Homo sapiens: one gene and its partner. The gene in region 1 interacts genetically with each later gene. Each region holds a gene or a part of one and is shown in the gene's direction. Other genes may lie near its edges.

The links. Genes that interact genetically often act in the same process or in processes that back each other up.
Region 2: changes in KRTAP4-2 (region 1) and ETAA1 are lethal when combined (synthetic lethality), as found in Homo sapiens cells (one large-scale study listed by BioGRID).

What each region holds. Positions count from the first base shown.
Region 1 is NC_000017.11:41,175,697-41,180,219, reverse strand, and holds KRTAP4-2 (keratin-associated protein 4-2), read left to right. Parts: upstream 1-1,998; 5' UTR 1,999-2,055; coding exon 2,056-2,466; 3' UTR 2,467-2,774; downstream 2,775-4,523. UniProt on the Homo sapiens protein: In the hair cortex, hair keratin intermediate filaments are embedded in an interfilamentous matrix, consisting of hair keratin-associated proteins (KRTAP), which are essential for the formation of a rigid and resistant hair shaft through their extensive disulfide bond cross-linking with abundant cysteine residues of hair keratins.
Region 2 is NC_000002.12:67,407,333-67,409,960, forward strand, and holds part of ETAA1 (ewing's tumor-associated antigen 1), read left to right. Parts: intron 1-2,578; coding exon 2,579-2,628. UniProt on the Homo sapiens protein: Replication stress response protein that accumulates at DNA damage sites and promotes replication fork progression and integrity.

The sequences.
Region 1 (4,523 bases):
ACTATGTGAAGTGGTGGAGGTGAACTAATTTGATCATGACAATAATTTCACAATATATACATATCAGAGCATCAGGGTGTACACCTTATATACATACAATTTTATATTTCAATTATAGCTGAGTAGAGGTAGAAAAAATGAAATTGTTAAAGTACTAGAAGAAATCGTGAGAGATTCCTAAATATAATGTAAATTTATCTTAAGGAAAACACACACACACACACACACACTCACACACACTCACATCATGAAGAAAAATAGTTAATATAAAGTGATCTCTACTGAATCATCAGCAGGCACCAATCGTCACGGCTTCTCAAGGGCACGATTCTTTTCCAGAATACAAGGTCTCCTGGAAATCTTAGAGTTGTTCTCGTACACCACCATGGGGCTCACAGGGTCTTAATTCCACAGCATCATGGAACCCACTTTCATCCCTCAATAAAATATGATGTCTGGGTACATCAGAGCCAGAGAACAGTGCAGGCTCAGAACACCAGCCAGCGCACCAAGCAGGGGTTCACTTGGGAGCCCAAGTTGTTTTCATTCTGCTTGAATCACCTGGAAATTAGGGCCAGGGCAGGAGTAGGAACTGGCTTGGAACATAGCAGCATCATAAGAACACCACAATTTGATTTATTAGACTTATAAGCACCTGAGAGAAGAAAGGGAATCTCCCTCATTCATCCAATCCCCTCCATCTGGTTCTTGGATCTCCCTCAGAAACACCAGCTTACACTGAAACTCCTCCCCTGATTATCTGCAGAGGCTGCCCAGTTCATAAAACATTTCTATCATGGTAAGTCAGACATTTTTCCACCCCCTTCCCTGGGTTCCTTGACTCCTCAGGGGTGGGGAAATACATATATATTTATTAACTGATGAGTTAATGAATTGACAACATAGCACATTTTTGAAACAATAGTCAGCCATCCCTACATGAAAAAATATAGGCTGATATCCTTTGTTCTTGATACCTGTTTTCTGCTTTCTTTCTCTCTTTATTGATTTATTTTTTGAAAACAAAGATGTAAAGTGTGAAATTGGATCAACAACTTCTATAAGGAAGCAGCAGAGTATAGGACATCTTCAAGGCCCAGCAATTCAGCAGAGAAAGCAAGAGGGCTGGGAGCGAATTAGAGCAAGCAAAGGATACTGAGTCATCTAATTTGGGTTGGCCAGAAAATTTTGGAACCTGGAGAGATGAGCTCATGTGCCCTGTTAGAGCTAGGAAGGCAGAAAGGCAAAGTCACAAGGAAAATCTGCCCCAGGGAGCAAAAAAATGAGGGACTTGGACCTTTAAGTATAGCTGTTCTCTGAAGCCAACATTCCCCAAGAGGCCCTGAATCTGAATTTTGGAGGGTTGTTTCTGTAGAAAAGGAAACATCAAACTTTCACAGCTTAGTTTTCCACCTTAAAACAGCTCTGTATTTCTCATCAGAAGGTCTAGAAAATGGGTCACAATTCAGAGTGCGGAAGATAAAAAAGCGATAGGTCCTACGGTGTTCTCGTTCTCACACCAGTGGTCATCTGTTTCACACTGAAATCTGTTTCACACTGAAACCTTCACAGGCCATCTGACCCATAATGAAGGAGCCATCAGACTGAAATGCAGCTTTATCCTCCTGAGTCACCAGAAAGAGTCAAGGGCCTGTAAGAATAGTAATCACCCAAGAGTAGTCATGATGTGTTAAGCAAATGAGACTGAAGCACATAGTATGTGCTTACAGGCAGATGTCACATGGCTGCTCTAGGAGGAAGCTATAGTAAGAGAGACACAGGAGGTGGTTCAGGAAGAGCTGAGCTAAGGAGTCCTAACACATTAGGGAAAGGAGACAGTGTTTCCATCTATGTGGATAAGTTAACCAGAACAACAAACTTGCCTAATTTGATAATTGCCTACATATCAGGACAAATAATAACAAGGAAAGAGTGTTGCATCTGATGACATCAGGCCTTAGCAGGGTATAAAAGAGGATCTGGGGCAAGGAAACTTCCAAACCTTCCAAACCCACCTTCCTGGAAATCCACCCAGAACCTCCACCCTCTGACACCATGGTCAACTCCTGTTGTGGCTCTGTGTGCTCTGACCAGGGCTGTGGCCTAGAGAACTGCTGCCGTCCCAGCTGCTGCCAGACCACCTGCTGCAGGACCACCTGCTGCCGCCCCAGCTGCTGTGTGTCCAGCTGCTGCAGACCGCAGTGCTGCCAGTCTGTGTGCTGCCAGCCCACCTGCTGCAGCCCCAGCTGCTGCCAGACCACTTGCTGCAGGACCACCTGCTGCCGTCCCAGCTGCTGTGTGTCCAGCTGCTTCAGACCCCAGTGCTGCCAGTCTGTGTACTGCCAGCCCACCTGCTGCCGCCCCAGCTGTGGCCAGACCACCTGCTGCAGGACCACCTGCTACCGCCCCAGCTGCTGTGTGTCCACCTGCTGCCGCCCAACCTGCTCTAGTGGCTCTTGCTGCTGATGCCCTCACCTATACTCACCTGCCTTTATTAACCAGCATTCTTGATATGATCCACCTGTGAACTGAATCATGCAAGGCCAATTGGACAACCTCAGTTCCAACCAATTCTTGGATTGAGTTTGGCCTCCAAATATGCTCACCAAACACTATGTTGCTACCCTCTACCAAATGAATACAAGTTTGAATTTTCTCTGAAATATGTCAACCCCATGTTCCCTGAATTGAAATATTTGCTCTCTACCATAATTTATCACATGGAGCTATTCCTCTATCTTAAATAAATTTTAATTTTTGAGGCATACAAATAATATACGGGCATTGTGTCTCATTTTTCCTTCTTGAATTCTCATCCTTACCTGTCAAATTTTCTGATGTTCTTCCCTGCAGAGGGAGAAGACCACAGCAGATGATATCAGGGGCTCCACCTCTATCCTATCAGCACTCTCCATTCAAACATAGGAAAATGGTTCCTTAGAGCAGGCACCTGGAACTCTCTACCTGAGGACTTTCTCTGGATAAAGGAGCAAACTCTGGGCTGGAGACTTAAAGCCTCTAGGAACAGCACTCAGAGAATGAGTGGGAGTTGGTAATATATGCCCTGGCTTGTTTCCCTCCAGTGGGGGGTATGTCAAACCAGTCTTCCAGAGGTCTTCAGCGGGATTTATACCAGATGCCTGCAGGAACATTCTGATCATGAACTCACTCTATAATGACTTTCCCTCCTTCCCAGGGTCATTCTTCAAGTTTCCTCCAGTGTTTCTTGGGTTAATCGTCCAAATATACCACATGTTCTCAGATCCTCTTTTGTGGGTTTGCCCCAGAGAGCACACAATCTAAAACAGCAGCATTCCTAATCTCAGTATTAGTGTCCTTCAAAATGTTTTTGTACAATATGAATGGTTACCATAGATTTTGATCAACTCTTGAGTTTACTGTCACCTGAATGGACACCTCTGAACATTTTGCTGTTTTTTTTCTTTTCAATTTTTGCGCATTACAATTTTTTTCTATTATTTGTTCATTTACTTTTTTGGTCTTCTTTTAAGAATTTTAATTTTTAAAGTTTTTATTTCAATATGCATGTTTGCTTTTAAACTAGTTGTCTTTGATTGTTTTTTTCTTCACATCGTTTTATCTGAGGGATAGGACACAACCACCGTGTTGGTGATTCTCATCCTAAAAAAGGCTATATTGAAAAAGGTTTCACCCTGAGCCATGCTGCTAAGTTGGAGGCACCAAAGAAAGATCTAAAACAGGATGTTTGCACAAGTGACTTTTATAAGAAAATGCTCTCAGGAGAAATCAGTAAGGAAATGTCGGAAACAGAATAGGATTGTAGAAGAGGCTAAGCCCAAAAGGATTTTATTGTCATTTGACCCCACAGGAAGCTCTAGAGTGTGAATGGTATTACAGACCCATCTTTCTGAGAGGTAAGGTCGTTGGAACTTTACAATCCTACATCAGTTACCACTAGCTATGGCCCACCCTGTGGGAGAGGAAGAGGATGCGAAGAGGGCGGAATCCTCCAGATGAGGTGGCTCCTGTAAGCTGAGGACAACTATCTGGAGAAGTGTGCAGGTGAACAAAGGGAGCTGCTGGCTGTCCTACTTACACTAGCTTGGGGATGGGGGTATCTTTCTGGTAAATGGGATCAGGATAGGGAGCCCTGTAGTCCACCTCTGGCACTGCTCAGCTGCAGCTGTTTCTCTCATTAGGCTCACTCCAACTGGTTGGTCACAGTTTCTAGAGAAACGTATGAGAGGAGGGGTCATGGGCACCCCTGCTTCTGGTCTAGGTCACTTGCTTGGTAGGGTAACCCGAGTCCTCATCCTGAGAGCTCTAAGCCTTGGTTACTGTGTCCTTATCAGGCTTGAGCCCTTGAACTTGCTCATATGCAGTCAAGGCTGGAAGTAGAAGCACCAAGCATGTCCCAGAGGATCACTTAAGTGCTAAATATATTCCTCCCTGTCCCCATTGGCATAGCAGTGGTCCTACTTCCTCATGATGATGAGGCCAATTGCCTGTGGCAACAGCCCTTTTCTTTATGTGCTTTTCTC
Region 2 (2,628 bases), on another chromosome or scaffold:
TCCTGGGCTGCGGGTAGCTTGCGGGCTGCGGGTTGGACAAGCTTGCTTTACATGATAGCCCAAACTAGATATTTTGAAATATTAAAAATTGTTCTCAATCTATAATAATTTTAAGTATTTAAATTTGTATTAAAGTGAGCATATTGTAACTAAATCAAGCATGTTCCTAGCATGACTTTATTTACAGATAGAGTTGACCCTTGAACAGTGTGGGGGTTAGAGGCGCTGATCTGATTTGCAGTCGAAAGTCTGTGTATAACTTTTGATCCCCTAAAAACTTAACTGCTAATAGCCTGCTGTTGACCAGAAACCTTTCCGATAACATAATTAATTAATACATATTTTGTATGCTCTTATATGTATTATATACTGTATTCTTACAATAAGCTGGAAAAGTGTTATTAAGAAAATAAGGAAGAGAAAATAATATTTACTATTCATTAAGTGAAAGTGGATCATCATAAAGGTCTTCATCCTCATGATCTTCATGTCTAGTAGGCCGAGAAGGAAGAAGAGTAGGAGTTGGTCTTGCTGTCTCAGGGGTGTCAGATGCAGAAAACAACCTACAAATGAGTGGACTTGCCAGTTCAAGCCCATGTTGTTCAAGGGTCAACTATAGTTATAATTCTATAAAAGACTAAACCTCCTGGAGTATTTGAGTTTTCCCAAAACTCCTATCTACCAATCTATCTGCATTTTTTATGGATAATCTGCGTTTTAGCTTACCTTATCAATATTTTCTTTAAACTTATTGATAGTACTGAATCTCTTAATTACTATTAACTTTGTTGATGTTTTCTATTGTTTCTACTTCCTTTTACTTTGGTATGTAGCAAGCTGCTCTCCAGGGAAGTATCTCTGAAACAAAACTCACTTAACTCCCACATTTATTTCAGGCAGGAGTTGGCAAACTATGATCTGTCCAAATCCAGCCTGCAGCTTGTTTATGTATAGCCAGCACACTAAAAATGATTTTTACATTTTAAATGGTTGGAAAAAAATTAAAAGGAGAATAATATTTCATGACATTTGAAAATTATATGAAATCCAGATTTCATTGTCCATAAACAGGTTTTATTTGAATACAGCTCATCAGTTATTTATACATTATCCATAACTATTTTTGCTACAGTGGTACAGGTGAGCAGTTGCAACAAGATACTCAAAGGTTAACATTCTTGCTTTCTGACTCTTTCTTTACAGGAAAAAAAAAAATTACTGACCCTTGCACTGTAAGATCAAGATTAAGAAGAGCAGCTTTTGCTTAGTACTTTACAATATTTTAAGACTTCATTGTGTATTTTTATTATAGATTGAGTTAAAGGAAAGACTGATGGGAAAAATGGATGAGTCCCTAAATCAAATTTTCATGGTGTGACCTGATTATCATTTGAAATTATTTTCTATAATATTGCCAAGCAAATTGTAAGACCAACTTTAGGAAGTTATGTTTTCTGCTGTTACAGATTATTAACCTGTTTTCTTTCCACACAGTCAAATTCAGTGTAAAGTCTTTGGATGTGTAGTCTGAGTTTGTTGTGTTTCTCAGCTTTGAGACTAAAAGTATTAGATAATTAGTCAAGCTAATTAGAAAGTATCTTCTGGTGTCTCTCTTTAGGAAAAAATATCTACAGTCTGTTAGGTAAATAGCTTAGGAAATAAAAGCCATCAAAATCATCTGGGAAACTTATTTAAAATATGTATTTCTTAGCCTGAATACCCCCTCCCATTTCTGATTATACCAAGAAAGGAAAGGGAGGCAGATTATATATTTTGAAAATGCCTCTGTTAGTTAACAAGAGAAATGTCTCATAAATTGTGTATCTTTTTCTAAATGTCAGAATAAATGATATACTTAAATATGTATTAGGGTGATAGTCTTAAACTTAAAATATCATTTAAATGAGAAAGTGATTTCTAATACAAAGCCTCAACTTACTAAGTTAATTGAGATTATTTTAAAGTTTCTCCAAAATGCATCCTCCAAATAAAAATATAATTTCTGACAGTGAATCACAGGTAACCAGTTTGACATGACAGATTTCATTTTATCACTCTAAAATATATTTCCTCAGTGGATGAAATGAAAATTTTATAGCTCTATAGGGAAAAGTAGATGTGAATATTAATATAACATCTTATGTAAATATACACTGTTTGAGATTGATAACTAATTTAATTCCTTATATTTTGACTATTTTCCAATTAAAGTTTACATAACATTTTAAATCCCAATGTATCCTTTTTAAAGATATATTTATTCGTGGGTCATATAAATTAGATGTCATTGTCCACAAGAATTATTTGGTGGGTAGTCAGTTTTCTATCAAACTGAATTTTATCACACTGTGAAAAGAATGTATCAAATAGAGACAGATCCATCAGTGCTTGATTTTCTTTTGAACTGGAGCATTATATCTGTATTATGTACTTAGAATTTTATATTCAGTAGTTTAGTTTGATTTAATAGCCAACTAATATGGCAAATCTGGGTGATTAAAAAAAGCAAAAATTAAAGCACATATTGAATGACTTTATAGGCTATAAAAGTAAAACTCATCTTTTGTTGAATTTTTAGAGGAAGAAGAGAAAAATAGAAAGTGTTCTCCTGAAGAAATTCAGAGAAAA